Linked DNA regions of Homo sapiens: regions 2, 3 and 4 are each reported to be linked to region 1. The links are microRNA targets in miRTarBase. Many come from high-throughput screens and were not tested one by one. Region 1 holds a microRNA gene; each other region holds the end of a gene's coding sequence. Distances are between the middles of the regions.
The links. The annotated mature microRNA hsa-miR-548av-3p reads AAAACUGCAGUUACUUUUGC and lies in region 1 at 1,929-1,948, shown strand. An mRNA with a match to its seed (bases 2 to 7 or 8) in the 3' UTR can be bound and repressed. Matches are read on the target gene's strand: a 7mer-m8 pairs with bases 2 to 8, a 7mer-A1 pairs with bases 2 to 7 and ends in A, and an 8mer does both.

Region 1 (4,000 bases):
CTGAATCCTGCAGCTGGTAAATCCATGGTCAGCCATGGCCTGGGCAATGCCCCTGGGATTGCTGGCAACCCCACACTTACAGATTCAGTCTCTGCTCAGCTCCCCTTAGCTTCAGACAACTTAGCATCTGCCAAACTCTCATCCCAGCAACTCCTGACCCAGGGCCCATCCTAGGATCATCTCACCCCACCATAGTTGCCTCCTTGCAAGTCTGCTGGTTGCCGTCTGATGTCTGAGATTCTTCCTTCTGTCTGGACCTCTAGAGACCTCGAAATTGAGCCAGGCCAGACCTACTCCAGTGACCTTCTCCTAGGGTCTCAAATGGTGCAGTGGAGCCAGGGTTCCCTGAGCCCTTTGACATTCTCCTCACTTAGCTCACACACTTTCCCTCTCCTCCCTGAGGCTAGAAGAGAAATCAGAACTTGGTCCTCACAGCTTGACTTGCCACCATCTTTTCCCTCATTTCCACAAGTTGCTGGGATCTTGAGGGCTGGGTTTTCTCACTATTTCTCACTCTTCTCTGTGCTTCCCTACTTCTATAACTTCAAGCTTCTTGTCTTAGTTGGGAGGGGTATCTTCTTTGCACGATGGGAAAATTTTGGCAATTAGAATCCTCTAGGCCTCACCCTGGATAGGTTACAATGGTTGTCAAAAGTGTGATCATGCCCAGGAACTTCTGGAAAATACAAATTCCCAGGCCCTGCTCTAAGCCTAATGAATTGGGAACTCTGGAGTTTGAGCCTAGCAATCTGATTTACCAAGTCTTCCCCATGATTCTGATGCACCCTAAAGAACCATGGCATTAAATATTTCAGCAAATTCTCTCTCTCCCTCTCTACCAACGCCTTTCTTACCATTTTTCATGCCTAAACTCTTATTAGACAGACCGGATACTCCCTCTTAATCTAATTGATTGATTAGCTACATAAACTCAAATCATTTTGTGATTAAAAAAAGAAATGTATAGCCTTAAAAGCAAAGGAAATTCTGATATATGCTACAACATGGATGAACCCTAAGGACATTATGCTAAGTGAAATAAGCCAGTCACAAAAAGACAAATACTGTAAATGATTCCACTTGTATAAGGTACCCAGGGTAGTCAAATTCATACACAAAAAATGTAGAATGGCAGTTGCCACAGGTTGGGGGAGGGGAGATTAGGGAGTTTTGTTGAGTAGGTACAGAGTTTCAGTTCTGCGAGATGAAAAGAGTTCTGGACATTGGATCTACAAAAATGGGAATATACTTAATGCCACTGAAGTGCACCCTTAAAAAACGGGTATACCAGCAAACCAAATTCAATAGTACACCAACAAGATCATTCATCACAACCAAGCGGGATTTATCTCTGGGATGCAAGGATGGCTCAACATATATAAATCAATCAATACTATATATCTTCTCAATAGAATGAAGAACAAAACCAGATGATCATTTCAAGTGAAGCTGAAAAAGCATTTGATCCTTTCATGATAAACATCCCTTCATGATAAAAGTCCTTCAAAAAACTGGGTATAGGAGAAACATACTTCAACATAATAAAAGCCATAGATGACAGACCCACAACTAGTATCACACTGAATGGGAAAAAAATTGAAAGCCTTTCCTCTAAGATCTGAAGCACAACAAGGCTACCCACTTTCACTACTGGTATTCAACATAGTACTGGAAGTCCTAGCTAGAGCAATTAGACAAGAGAAAGAAAAGGCATCCAAACTGAAAAGGAAGAAAGCAAATTATTTTTATTTGCAGATAAGATGATCTTATATTTGGAAAAACCTAAAGACTCCACCAAAAAAACTAGCAGAATTGATAAACAAATTCAGTCAAGTCACAGGATACAAAATCAACATACCAAAATCAGCAGCATTTCTATTAGGTTGGTGCAAAAGTGATTGCAGTGTTTGCCAATAAAAGTAATGACAAAAACTGCAGTTACTTTTGCACCAGCCCAATATATGCCAACAGTGAACAATCTGAACAAGAAATTTAAAAAGTAATCCCATTTACAATAGCCACAAATAAAATTAAATACCCAGGAATTAACCAAATAAGTGAAAGATCTCTATAATAAAAACTATTAATATAATACACTGATGAAAGGAGTTGAAGAAGATACAAAAAATGGAAAGATATTCCATGTTCACAAATTGCAAGAATCAATATTGTTAAACTTCTCAAAAGAAGACATATAAATGGCAAACAGATATATGAAAATGTGCTCAACATCATTGATTATTAGAGAAACGCAAATCTAAACTACAATGAGATATTATATCATCCCACCCCCGTTAAAATGGCTTATATCCAAAAGACAGGCAGTAACAAATCCTAGTGAGGATGTGGAGAAAAGGGAACCCTCGTACAGTGTTGGTAGGAATGCAAATTAGTACAACCACTACGGAGAACAGTTCAAGGTTTCTCAAAAACCTAAAAAGAAAGCTACCATACGATCCAGCAATCCCACTATGGGGTATATACCCCAAAGAAAGGAAATCAGTACCTCTAAGAGGTATCTGGACTCCTGTGTTTGTTGCAACATTCTTTACAATAGCTAAGATTTGGAAGCAACTTAAGTGTCCATCAACAGATGAATGGATAAAGAAAATGTGGTACTTACACACAATGGAATATTATTCAGCCATTTAAAAAAATGAGATCCTGCCATTTGCAACAACATAGATCAAACTGGAGATCACTATGTTAAGTGAATTGAGCCAGGCACAGAAAGACAAACTTTGCATATTCTCACTTGTTTGTGGGATCTAAAAATCAAAACAATGGAACTCATGGACACAGAGAGTAGAAGGATGGTTACAGAGGCTGGGAAGGGTAGTAGGAGGCTGGTGGGGAGGTAGGGATGGTTAATGCATACAAAAAGGTAGGATGACTAATACCTACTCTTTGATAGCACAACAAGGTGACTATAATCCATAATAATGTAATTGTACATTTAAAAATAACTAAAATCGTGTAGTTGGGTAGTTTGTAACACAAAAGATAATGGCTTGAGGAGATGGATACCCCATTCTTCATGATGTGATTATTATGTGTTGCATGCCTGTATCAAAACATCTCACGTACCCCATAAATGTATACACCTACTTTATAACCACAAAAATTAAAAATTAAAATGTTAAAATAAAAAATGGGTAAGATGGTAAATTTTGTTATAAATATTTTTAATTTTTAAATTAAATTTTTAAAAATAAAAATAAAGGACTTTGGTGATTAAAGCAAAAATAAAAACTGGGTTAAAAACAGTTTAAGCAATAGGTATTGATTTGGTGAATGGTGACATGGCCAACTCAGCTGATTATTCATTGAACGTAATCCTGGAGGTTAGGGTTCAGAACTGAATACTGGAACAAATGCTCCTGGTAAACATGAGTATTTCACCAAACCTTAATTGAATTTCTGATCTACCTAAAGTATAAGAAGGAGCTGGTCAAATAGATCTGACTCTAGCGTTCCAAAAGGGTAATCGGTGTCAGTGTGTCTGTTGAGATAAAAGATAATCTATACTTGAAATTTTCGCATATCACAGGCTAAAAAGCCCTCTGTGTAAATTAATTCCTAGTGGTCTATATCTTTCTACATTAAAAATATGGGCAAATCAAATTTCCCCATCCACCAAAGGGACGAGGTGCTGGGGAAGGTCTGATTGTTTACTCTTTACTGTGTATTGTTGTCAGCAGTACATTGGTTAACTAGGAATTATTCTAAGTCCCTTCATTGCCCTGTTCTTCCAATCATTTGGCATCAGGTGAATGGTTCCAGCCTCCCTAGAGGCAGCAATAAAGGACAGGGACTGGTATTGGAAGATGGTGGGGCTGTAGACCAATACCTCTGCCTCCTGTATTATTTGTCTACCCAATAAAATAATATTCTTTAATATAACAATTCACGTTTATCAATCTTGTTAAAGGATGAATTAAAGAATCTTTAGAAAAATGCTCCAGTCTAGGTAAAATCTGAACTTATTATGCGTAACACA
Region 2 (4,225 bases), 23 Mb from region 1:
CTGTGCAAACATAGTGTGGTATATATTAAACAATCACACATTTGAGGTAATTAGCTGGGAAAAAAAAAAAAAAATATATATATATATATATACACCTATACATAGACACATCCACAGAATATTCACAAATCTATTGGCCCCAACACCAGCAGATAGTCATATTAAATGAAAAATATCACATACCAACAGGAAAAAGTTACACATAGGGAATATACAAAAAATATGGTGCTATAATCCTTAATATAAGGAGTATGTTTTGAATTAATGTTTTGAGGAAAAGTGTTTCCATTTATATGAAAGTATCTATTTAATAGTAATAAAACCAAAAAGGAAGCTGAATTCTAGGACTGTTTTACCTGCCAAATAATTGAAGGGATGAGCAAGAATTCCTTGAAAAGCCTCATTCTATCCTTTTTCTTTGTAACTAAAAATTAGAATTTAAAATGTTGGAAATTATTGCCAGACAAGTTTCTTTTCATTGGTTTATAGGGAATTTTATGGATTTTAACTAGGCAATGGTCCAATGTGGTCAACAGACATGGTTTTTCAGCTGTTGAATGAAAATTAAAATAAAGATTTATTGTTGATTTTCATTAGTTTTTCTGTTCAGATAAGAAAAAAGATTATGAATTCCCTTTCAGTTTGCTTCACTCATTATGAAGATGGATAGTAATAGGATAGTACTGAACCCAAGCTTCACATGGGGAAGCTCAAGAAATGTACAAATTCTCTTCTTAACCATTTGGTCCTCTGATATAAAACTTGCTTAACTGGCAAGATGGCTCACTTGGTCCTCAAGCCAACATCAAGAAATATTTAGCTGTCTTAACACAGGTGGGAGACTTTTTTTTAATGAAATACATAGGAATCCATTAAGTAACATTAGCATGTCATGTGTTAAATAGCTTCATTTAAAAATGTTACAGATCAACAGAAGGGAAATCAAAAACTTATTTTTCTCAGTAACTACTTTACATACTAGTGTAATTAAAGGTTTAACTGGAAGAAAAATTCAGCATAAAAGTATAATTAAAGTAAAAAGCTGGTATTCCACATTCCTGTTCCTATGAACACCTGAGCTGGCACAAAAGCTGAGTAGTTTAATGCATTGGCATATATATGCCTTAAGGACTGTACTTTTCTCTACCAAATCTTTGTAAATCATAAACAAGCATGTAATGATTATGAAACAAATACTTATTTAGGTGTTCAAATGTAATCTGTTTACAAAATATATTATTTTCACTTATTAGATGAATTCAACTTGACATTTTTCATTGCTGAGAATTCAGTTCACATTTAATCAAACTACATTTCGAAATTTACAGATGACTAAATGACTAGCACCAGTCTATTTGGGAACTAAGGAATCAAAAGAAGAGGAGAAAGGTACTATTTTTCATTTCCCCCAAACCCTCACAAGGACAATAATGTTTGTGTGTATATGCATGGGTGTATTTGTGTTTACACAAAAAGGGGTAAAAATGTAAAGCATTAATAAATATAAGTGCTGCTAAACTGTTAGAATACCAGTTAGAGGAGCTAATAAAGCAATATTCAAAGATTGAGGACTTTTAGGTGGTCATTAGAATGAGCCGATGAAATTGCGAAGTTCATGTAGCTAAACATAAGATGGCAAAATGTTGGGATTTTTATTATAAAAAAAGCAGCAAACATGAAAATCTTTTATCAAGATATCCAAACTCTTCTTACTTTATAAAGTTAACTCCAAATTATAAGATACTTGTTGAGCTTTTATACCATGATATAGATGACATTAAGGACTGAATCTTTACTTGCATACTTCATATGTGGCTTAAATTGTCAGGCACTCAGTCTGTCATTTCTCACTGCAGAAAATTTTATCAAACACATTTTCCCTAGCATTTTATGAAATTTAATGGAATGCAGCACTGCAACTGAAATATAATACTGTCCAAAAGCCATGTATGACTTTATAATATATACTTTATGGTATCACTTAACTTTGTACAATAACTTCACCTATCTCCTTAAAGCTGGGATTAAGGGAAAAAGAATCAGTCAACAAGAAGGTAAGTTCACAGAATTATCAGCCATAATAGTGTAAATTTGCCATTAAAATTAGAAAAATAAATAGATGAAATTTTTTTCATTCAAATTTTCATAAATTTTCTGATGCATATGAACTTTCAAAGTTAATTAAAATGCTATGAACTTATATTTTTAAAAACTTACTCTGCAGGCTCAACAAAATAATTAAAATTGTATTTTCTCTTAAGCACTGCTTTTTTTTTTTTTTTAAGGTAACATTTCTAAGAGCAAGTTGGTTAAGCTCTCCAGTTTTCCTATGACAGTATGTTGTTTAGTTTAACCTACTAATTCAATCAGGCATTTCTATTGATTCACCTGGAAAAGGGGATACAACAGAACATTTTTAAGAGGTCATTTTAGCAGTTTTATTCAACAGATGCCATAAATTAACTACATTCAGGAAAAAAAACTTAAACAAAGAACAAAGCCACCCTATCTAGCATTCTCTCACTCACAAAGAAGTATCAAAGATATGTTTATGTTCCATTAACCGAGTATGAAGCAAAATCATTAAAATATTACAACTGCTAAACACAGAAGACTAGAAATCAAATAGTTTCATATCCAGTATACAGGCATCAAAAACTTCAATTTCCAGCTGTTTTTTTTTTCTAATTCATATCATGGATTTACTTACAAGGAGCTTATTCCTATGGGATTAATTCAATTACTCAATGGTAAATAGATTTTAGCTCAGAATTTTTAAAGGATGACTTGCTTTAAGTTACTATTCTACGTGCTGCTCTATTTCTGCTCACACTTGCATGTGGCCAAACAGATCATGCTCTGATCAGATAAGTATACTGTAATCTACTTATATGTTTAGGAGTTGGCATAGGGTTAAAAGGCACAAAGCTGTATTTTAGTACTCATTTTTCTTATTACTTATTTGTAAAGGAACTTCTTTGGATCCTGCTTAAATGATCACCAAGAAACTGCAAATTTCTATGGGGGAAAATGTGAGTCCTCTTCATAAATTTTAGCAGCCCTTCAAGGACATATACATCAAAATTTGGTGGCCTTTAAAGTATTGGAATTTTAAATGACATAACTGCACTTTACTGTTGAAGACCCTTTTAGTTTAATATTTATAGCCATTTCCTCATATTTTCTTTAAAATTTATCAGTATAGCATTTCATTTCTATGCATGTATATGTATAGTAATTCATAAAACTAAATAGCAAACTGATATTCTACACCAGTTCATTTATCTCAATATATATTTTGGAATATAACGGCAATATTAAAAATATCAATTCCCTCTAAGCTGATAATACTATAAGATTTTACACAAAGTTAAAGTTTTTGTTTTTTCTTTTTGAAAAAGTTTCATTGTTTAAAGTCCACATATTTGACACCTTGATAAGGAAAATGTAAATGTGTCATATAACATTTATTCCATCAATTTAAACTGAAGTGTCTCATGGAGCTAAACACTAAAAGAATTTAAATAAAAAAGCAGTAACCTGTATGTACACAAAATGATCATTCCATAAATATTTACATGACAAGGGAAAAAATGGAGAATCACTAAAACTGGAAATTGCTACAGGTGTGATAATCCTTTCTCATGACACTTTAGTTAGGAATCATGTAAGCTTTTAAAATGAAAATACTTGTAGAAGCGTTAACTAAAATATTCCATTTTAGTTTTCAGTTACTATTTAAAGGAGCCAGTAGGTCATAAACAGTCCAAGATTTCAGGAACCAACTATTCAGTTTAGTTTTCAGTATCAAATCTTTTCCTTCATCCCTCATGATGAAACCAAACTTACTTACAGAAAAAATAAAGAGTACGCTAAAAGGTATAAATAAAAATTCCAGTTCATCCTCCTTTATAAAGACTGGTAAGCCGCTCTAATTCTTTACAGTTGTCCATGCTCAAGGCATCTGCCTTCCTTCGGAGTCGATCATCACGGTATACTTTTGCTGCATACTGCATATCTGTTTCTGTTAATAAAGAAAAATATTTTGCTAATTGAATAAAATTTTTGTCACCTAGTTGCTTAAGCTCAAGTGATGCTTTACAGGAGCCCTTTGATATATTTTGATTAACTGACTTAAAAAAAATCAAAGTACAATTCCTAAAAGCCATTTTAGTAGGAAAAAAATTTTAATGAAAACTTTATTTGAAGTATAGCAGGTAAAACA
Region 3 (4,225 bases), not on the chromosome of region 1:
TCTGGCCAGAGCAGTGACTCCATCTAACCTCGGAACCCAGCTTGCAGTGCTGTCCAACAGCAGATCCCAAATAGTGGAATTGCCTGAGCAGGGGACCAGCATCCTGTGACCGGCCTGGGCAGAAGCCATCACAGTACCCAGCCAACAGCTCCACCGACATCCGAACAAAGACCCAGCCAACTGGAGAACTTGACAAGCACTGCGGGCCAGGGTGGTCTTCAGGTGGCCCTTGCAGAGCCACAGGCTGGACCGATAGGAAGCTTTCACTGACGAAGAATACCTGTAATGACCAGAAGAGGGGGCTGTTGCCCACATGCAGACAACAGCACAAAGACACAAGGATTACGAAGACTGGGGGAGTCGTGACGGCTCCAAAAGAAACTAATAAAGCCCTAATAAGGGAAGGTTTCCTCCATTCTCGGACGGGTGCTTTCAGGTACAAGTTAGAGTTCCAGTTTATTCTTGAGAGGCTGAAAAAATTAGCCTTATGCCATTAACCTGAGAATACGTGTTCTTGACCAGGCATCTTCAGGGTTTTCTGAAGTAGTCAGATTGTGTATTCTTTTACGTATTTGCCTATCAGACCTTCACTTAGGTGTATTCACTTAGGTGTATTTCTCTCTCGTGTTCTTTTCCAGAAGAAAATCCTCAGCAAAGTGAAGAATTGCTTGAAGTAAGCAACTGATGGCATTTGAGAATTTATGTATCACTGAGTTTTTTGGGAATATCTTCGTGGAGAATTACGCATCAAATTTGATTCTCAGAGCAATAAATTATCCATGAAGTGCTCTCGTTCTCAGTAGCGGCATCATGGCCAGTAGTGTCTTTGAGGAGTTCACCACTTAGATTACTGAGTAATTGTGGTTTCCACATTTGAAAACAACTCCTTTTATAATTATTCACTGCTTTTTGTCAGTGAAATAGACATCTTGCCTCCTGAAGTAGCTTCATCACAGAGTGTCATGAAGACAGACAGTCAGGCTGAAATGGACAGTTCTTTGTGGACTCTACCCTTCCCTTCAAGGAGTATGTCATATATCACAAAAGAAATTGCCTTACACTGGTTCATGTTTGCAGTTACTGTTGTACATTGCATAGATGTACACACGAATTTAAATGTGATGTCTTTGTATATATCTGTATAATGTTGAGATTACTTACGAAATATGTCTGAGTGACACTTTTCACCCTTGTACAGCCAAAATAATGTATATATGGAAAGTGACAGACAAATTCTCTAATCTCTTTGGTACCTATAACTTATTAGAATCCTCTGGATGAGGGTTAGAAGAGACTTTTTCCAAACTTCTACATGTAGAAGTATCATAAATGTGCTACACATTTATGTTTGTGGATTTAATTAAAGTATTTTAATATGGTTTTCAGTGCTAAAATTGGAGTCAGATACTTCTTGGTTTTAAGCTGTCTACCTAATTGCTGTCTCCCAGCAGACTGGTGGCATGCCCAGTGGCTTTGGGGGCAAGGATAGAAATGCCATCAGGAAATAGCTGAATTCATTGTGAAACATGAATTCAGTCATGGTGATAATTGGAAACTCCTTTCAGGTTTTTGCAAGTAGATTTTGTAATGTTTGTGTATGCAGCCTTGCTGTTGAGTCAGTCCAAGGGGTTTTACTTAGGACAAGTTGTACCTTGCCCTCTCTCCAGCTCTGCTCCCACATTTTCACATACCTAGCTGTTTCTACCTCATTGGGTAAGTCATTTACCACTCTGTGCCTCAGTTTACTCTGTAGTTTACCATTAGACTGTGAGCTCCTTGAGGGACTTTGTCATAATCACTGTTACATCCCAGTGCCTCACACCATGCCTGGCCCTTAAGAAGTGCTCAATAAATGTCTGAACAAATAAGTGAGTGGAGTGAGTGAATTGTAAGATCAGAATAATAATATTTGGTTTGTCTATCGTACAAGATTCCTGTATCGTTTGAATATTGCTTTTAAAGAAATATTTGAAGCGACTTCAAATTCAGACTGTGTTTAAAAAGATTTAAAATCGGAATCCAAAATCAAAGTATTAAAAAATAATGCTGAGTGTTTAGGATTCACATACCTCTGAGCTCTGGTGGCTTTTGCCAGTCCTGTCCCTCTGCTGAGCACCAGCCCTTCCTGCAGCAGTCCTGCCGGTGTGTTTCTGTGCACCTGGGGATGAAGTGTGCTCCTCCCCCAGCGGTTAGCCTCAATGCTTTTCCTCCCTCTGTTTTATTATTTGAAATTAGCCAAAGAAAAGCTGCAGGGGGCACTGCTGATCATCACTGGACTGGTGGGTCGTACTGTTTGACAGAATAGGGAATACAGGAGGAGGAGCAAGCCTAGGGTAAAACTTAGGTTTGGGACATGCTTGATGAAAGCAAGAGTTGAGCAGGTTGTTGTGTGTATGTAGGTCAGGTGCTCAGCGGAAAAGTCTGAGCTGTGTAGTACGTCAGGCAGATGTCAGTTTAGATGCGATAGTTTAAGCCACAAGAGTAGGAGAGGTCATCTAAAGAGTACAGCAGGCCTAAGGGCATCTATATTTAAGGAGAAATACAGAAGAAGTCTCCTGAGAAGGAATAATGGGGCGGGTGGGGAGGGAGAAGGCAGTGTCCCAAAAACCAACAAAGGTTTTACCAAAGGTAATACCATCATTTCTGAGCAGCAGTTCCTTAACTTGTGAATGTGGCAAATGTTCTCCTTTACAAATTGTTCTGAAGGTAAAATGAGATCATGTAAACGAAAATCCTTTGTAAATTACAGATGTGTGTTATAAATGAAGTATCTCTCGAGTCACTCCATCTTCTGGCGTTGGGTCTCTGATTCTTAAAACGGATAAAATAAGCATGAACTCGTTTCTGGGCCCCTCCTCCTCACTAACCCTAACCTTTCCAACCTCACTGTCCCATCTCTGTGCGCACCGCTTCTTCCTTCAGAAACCTTGAGCGATCCGTGTTTCCTTCAGGCCGAAGTGCAGACTCTGGATATAGAAGGGCCCAAGGCTTGCTTACCAATCCTGCCTTGGTACCTGCCTTGCAGACCTTCACCCCAGTAAATTGGTCTCATCGCTACCTGAAGCACACAGTGAACTTTCCCATCTCCCTGCCTTTGCTCTTATCCTATCCTCTTCCTGTTCTCTGTGTTTCAAAATCGCATCCCTATTCTGGACCTGGCTTCACCCATGCCTCCCCTTTACTCCTACCCTGCATGCAGTTTATACACAGCACGCAGGTGGCCATCTTCCTTCCTCATAAGTTGCTGCGGCTACGTTCCCAGCTGCCATTCCATGTTGTCAGAGTGTAAGCTCATGTCTTAATAGGTATTTCTCATATTAATGTAGTGTATGATAGGGTTTGGCTGTGTCCCCACCCAAATCTCATTTTGAATTGCAGTTCCCATAATCCCCATGTGTCGTGGGAGGGACCAGGTGGAGATAACTGAATCATGGGAGCTGTTTCCCTACATCCTGTTCTCGTGATAGTAAGTTCTCACGAGATCTAATGGTTTAATAGAGGGCTTTTCCCTTCGCTCGGCTCTCATTCTCCCTCCTGCCACCATATGAAGAAAGACGTATTTGCTTCCTCTTCCACCATGATTGTAAGTTTCCTGAGCCAGCCATGCTGAACTATGAGTCAATTAAATCTGTTTCCATTATAAATTACCCAGCCTTGGGTATGTCTTTGTTAGCAGTTTGAGAATGGACTAATACAGTAAATTGGTACCACAGAGAGTGGGGTGCTGCTGTAAAGATACCCAAAAATGTGGAAGCAACTTTGGAACTGAGTAACAGGCAGAGGTTGGAACAGTTTGGAGGGTTCAGAAGAAGACAGGAAAATGTGGGAAACATTTAGAACTTCCTAGAGACTTGTTGAATAGCTTTGACAAATTGCTGATAGTGATATGGACAGTGAAGTCCAGGCTGAAGTGGTCAAGATGGAGATGAAGAACCTATTGGAAGCGGGAGTAAAGGTCACTCTTGCTATGGAAAGAGACTGGTAGCATTTTGCCTCTGCCGTAGAGATGCATGGAACTTTGAGAGAGATGAGTTAGGGTATCTGGCAGAAGAAATTTCTAAGCAGCAAAGTGTTCGAGAGGAAGCAGAGCATAAAAGTTTGGAAAATTTTGCAGCCTGATGATGGGATAGAAAAGAAAACTCCATTTTCTGGGGAGAAATTTAAGCTGGCTGCAGAAATTTGCATAAGTAACGTCAAATGTTAATCACCAAGAGAATGGGGAAGA
Region 4 (4,225 bases), not on the chromosome of region 1:
CACCTGCTTCTCCCCAAAGACTGTGGGGACTTCCAGGGAGGAGATGGGCTAGGGAGAGCAGGTCCCACCTCCATTATCTGGACAGGTGAGGCCTGGGTATTTCCAATTGCCTCATTTTGAGCAAGAGTTTTGATCTGTGGCCTCCTGCCAAGATTTTGCCATTCTTTCCTGACAAACTACACGGCTGTTTTGTAACCGGCATTATAAAATGGTTTTATTAATTATTAATAACTATTTAATGTGTACACAGTTATCCATGAAGAAATAGGAAATACCAGTGAGTTGTTACCAGCGTTGCCCCAGGCTGGGAGAGCCCTTCCAGCTTTCCTTTGGCCTCTGACACCCCTGCCCCACTGACCGCCCACCCCCCATTCCTGTCTGGAAGGCTCGCCTGCCATCATCCCGCACATCCGACAGCTCTCCCTTCAGGGTCACCTCCTCCTTGGACAAAGCATACGTGACCCCTTGTCAGGTTTCTTGGCTGGGTGCTCCCCCAGAGTTTGGCTCCTGCCCCCAACCAAGCATGCATGGTGACAATGCACCCACTTGATAACTGATCACTGGTGTCACTTCCACCTCCCTCCCTCCATGAGCGCAAACCTCCGGTTAATACAGTTGGGTCAGCCCAGGGTCCTCGGTGTCCCCAGAGTCTGCCATGCCTGGTGCTGGGCAGATACTCAATAAACACCCAAAATCAGGCCGGGCTCAGTGGCTCACACCTGTGACCTCAGCACTTTGGGAAGCTGAGGCAGGGAGGATGGCTTGAGCCTAGAAGTTCAAGACCAGCCTGGGCAACATAGCAAGACCCCTGTCTCTACTTTTTTTTCTTTTTTTTTTTGAGACGGAATCTCGCTCTGTCGCCCAGGCTGGAGTGCAGTGGCGTGATCTCGCCTCACTGCAAGCTCCGCCTCCAGATTCACGTCATTCTCCTGCCTCAGCCCCTCGAGTAGCTGGGACTACAGGTGCCCGCCATCACGCCCAGCTAATTTTTTGTATTTTTAGTAGAGACAGGGTTTCACCGTGTTAGCCAGGATGGTCTCCATCTCCTGATCTCGTGATCTGCCCGCCTCGGCCTCCCAAAGTGCTGGGATTACAGGCGTGAGCCACCGCGCCCGGCCTGTCTCTACTTTTAAAAAATTAAATTAAATTAAATTAATATCAATGAGTGAATAAATGAAGAAACAAACTTTGGGCAAGCCACTGCCCCTCTCTGGGTGACTTTTTTTTTTCAGTTTTGTAAAAAAGTGACAGTGTTAAAAATTAGACATGGAGGCCAGGCATGGTGGCTCATACCTGTAATCCCAGCACTTTGGGAGGCTGAGCCAGGCAGATCACTTGAGGTCAGGGGTTTGAGATCAGCCTGGCCAACATGGTGAAACCCCATCTCTACTAAAAATACAAAAATCAGCCAGGTGTGGTGGTGCATGTCTGTAGTCCCAGCTACTCGGGAGGCTGAGGTGGGAGAATCGCTTGAACCTGGGAGGTGAATGTTGTAGTGAGCTGAGATCGCGCCACTGTACTCCAGTCTAGGCAACAGAGACTCTATCTCAGAAAAGAAAAGAAAAAAAATAATTGGAAATGGGTTGCTGAGGACATGTGCCCCTGCTCCCTGCTGAGCTCCCAGTGTGCCCCTCCCCTCCTGAATTGGTAGGAGATTCTGCTCTCACCTCTGCAGGCGATCACTGCTCACTGCAATTCAGTCACTAGTGCCTGCACCTGACCCCATTTTTGTTTGCCACCCCCGCAGCCAGCCCGTATTTGTGATCACGGCCCTGTGATCAGAGTCTCAGGAAACACTTGTGCATGGGGCAGAGCAATCCTTGCTGCCTGCAAGGAAACCAGACAAGGCTGTGCTGATGGAAAATCGGCTGTAGTTACATGGGCAAGAATCAGAGTTCAAGTCTAGGAACCCCTGGTTTTTAGGCAGAGGACATCAAGGCAGAGGATGTCAAAGCTGAAGTGAGGCATTACAATCCCCCATCATGACAACCGGTGGGCCTTGTGAAATTTAGCACAGGTCCTCCCGGCTCCAGTTGGCCACAGCCTGCCATGGAAGCCCAAGTGCCTCTGGGCACTCCAAATATCACTGCATCTGGGAAAGCAGCAGACAGCGTGGCCATGCAGTGCAACAGGGTAGTGGGGATGCCTGTCACATCTCCGATGCAGAGGCAGCCCCTGGACATGGGGATGTCCTGTGACTCTTGCCCGACAGCCCAGGCCATCTCCTTGGAGCCAGCGCAGCCATTTTTTTTTTTTTTTTTTTTTTTGCCAATCTGCTCAAACACCCAGTTGGAACAGGAATGCCTCGTGGCACTGGCTTTAGGAGTTTAATCTAGATGGTTTGCTGTTTCTAGCAGCAGAGCACCTGTTCAGACTCTACGTATATGCACCCATGAATGGTGCAGCTGCCAAGAGAACCAAAGCTAAATGTTGGCAGGATCACAGCAGGTGTGGAGGGGAGGTCACTGGGAATTCCCTGGAGACTCAGTCGTTACCCACTCAACTGGAAGGCTGAGCATGGCTTTTTCCTCTGATGGTTACCCATGCCAGGCCCCACCTCTCCATGTCCAATGTTCTTTCTTTATTTGTTTGTTTGTTTGTTTGTTTGTTTAGAGACGGAGTCTGGCTCTGTTGCCCAGGCTGGAGTGCAGTGGCACGATCTCAGCTCACTACAACCTCCGCCTCCTGGGTACAAGCGATTCTCCTGCCTCAGCCTCCTGAGTAGCTGGGATTACAGGTGCACGCCACCATGCCCGGCTAATTTTTGTATTTTTAGTAGAGACAGGGTTTCACCATGTTGCCCAGGCTGGTCCCGAACTCCTGATCTCAGGTGATCTGCCCAACTCAGCCTCCCAAACTGCTGGGATTATAGGCGTGAGCCACCACGCCCAGTCCATTTCCAATTTTCCATCCAGTGGTGGCAGAACAAACTTGGATGGGCCCCAGTGCTCTGCTGGAACCAGGACCCTCACCCAGCTGCCTCCAGCTGGGCCTGCCCACCCCTGCTGACCTCCTACATGCAGAGAACAGGGCTTCTCTGCTCTTCAGGCCTGAAGCTGTGATGTCCACAGGACCTAGGAACCACGCACACCCCCTGAAGCTGGAACACCAGGCATGGGTGAGTCCTGGGTGGCTGGATCTTGTCAAGATGGGTGAAAGGGCAGCTTCTGCAAGCAGGACCCATCCTCAGTGGACTGGATCATCTTCAGCGTTCTCATTCTCAGCCGCATTCTCTGGGAACAGGGAAAGAGGTTCCTGTCTGAATCTTCAGCATGGGCTATGCACTGGTGGCCCCTTCCTGCTTGGCCACTGTGCCAGGTGAGCCTACAATGAGATGAAATGGTGACGTGGGACAAGTGGCTCTCTGCAGCCACCTCCAGCACCACCCTGCCTGGGAAGGCAGGGGTCAGAGGGGTGGGTGTGAAGGGGTTGGAGTGCACAGGTAGAGGTGGCTGGGGTCTTCACTGTGTTGGGGAGGGTCTCATCGCCTTGAGACTCTGCAGCGTCTCCTCAGAGGCCTTGTCGGGAAGCAGCACCTCCACAGTGTAGCTGAGCTTCTTGGCATGCATCCGGCTGTAGGTGTTGTCGAAGCGCAGGACATCTGCAGTGATGGAGAGGTGATCAGGGAGCACAAACCCCGCACATCTGCAGGAAGAGCCAGCCCTGCATGGGTGCATCCCTGGAACCCTTGGGAATGAGCTGCATCCCTGGAACGTCCTGCATCCCTGGAACCCTTGGAAATGAGCTGTCCAGGACAGTGGGTGGGGCCTGAGGGCCAGCCTGTGCCCAGCCCTAAGCCCATTGCTCGCTGCCATCTCCATGGTGGCTTGCGCTACATGAAGGAATCATGATGGTCATCAGCATATAGAACAGCACACAGCCAGGGAGCAGGCGGCCTGGGAACGGGATCTCGAGCTCCACCTGCAGGGAGGAGCTGTGGCCCACGGACACAGTATGCTCGTACTGCGTCCTCGCCTAGTTGCGGTTGCACAGGTAGCTCTTGGGCCTCTCCATGAACCATGGATTCCATCACACATTATAGCCCCTGAATCCTCAAAGCAGCCCCATGTGGAAGGCAATGTCATCCTCATTTTACAGAGGAGAAAACTGAGGCTTGGAGAGGTGATATGATCTTTCAGCGGTCACAGAGCAAGGGAGGGGAGGTACTGGGATTCCTTTATCCAGATGTCCCAACCCAGGGAGGAGCCCTGCTACCCCAGGAGGA

Region 2: the mRNA of DNAJB14 is a reported target of hsa-miR-548av-3p. Seed matches in the 3' UTR shown: 7mer-A1 at 3,482-3,488, 7mer-m8 at 3,006-3,012 and 7mer-A1 at 1,515-1,521.
Region 3: the mRNA of E2F6 is a reported target of hsa-miR-548av-3p. Seed matches in the 3' UTR shown: 7mer-A1 at 1,739-1,745 and 7mer-A1 at 2,451-2,457.
Region 4: miRTarBase lists SEC14L4 as a target of hsa-miR-548av-3p. Seed matches in the 3' UTR shown: 7mer-m8 at 2,855-2,861.

Annotation. Positions count from the first base shown.
Region 1 is chr4:76,573,671-76,577,670 of GRCh38, forward strand. MIR548AH (microRNA 548ah) reads left to right here and starts at 1,881; the gene lies at 1,881-1,956. The region is part of intron 2 of SHROOM3 (shroom family member 3); the gene reads left to right.
Region 2 is chr4:99,897,129-99,901,353 of GRCh38, forward strand. It overlaps DNAJB14 (DnaJ heat shock protein family (Hsp40) member B14), which reads right to left. Exons shown (of 8, transcript NM_001031723.4): 8 at 1-4,024. The coding sequence ends at 3,900. Among named protein-coding and RNA genes, the nearest start is that of LAMTOR3, 4.8 kb to the left of the region's middle.
Region 3 is chr2:11,442,937-11,447,161 of GRCh38, reverse strand. E2F6 (E2F transcription factor 6) reads left to right here. Exons shown (of 7, transcript NM_198256.4): 7 at 639-2,787. The coding sequence ends at 685. Among named protein-coding and RNA genes, the nearest start is that of E2F6, 21 kb to the left of the region's middle.
Region 4 is chr22:30,486,646-30,490,870 of GRCh38, forward strand. SEC14L4 (SEC14 like lipid binding 4) reads right to left here. Exons shown (of 12, transcript NM_174977.4): 12 at 2,257-3,601. The coding sequence ends at 3,462. Among named protein-coding and RNA genes, the nearest start is that of SEC14L3, 17 kb to the left of the region's middle.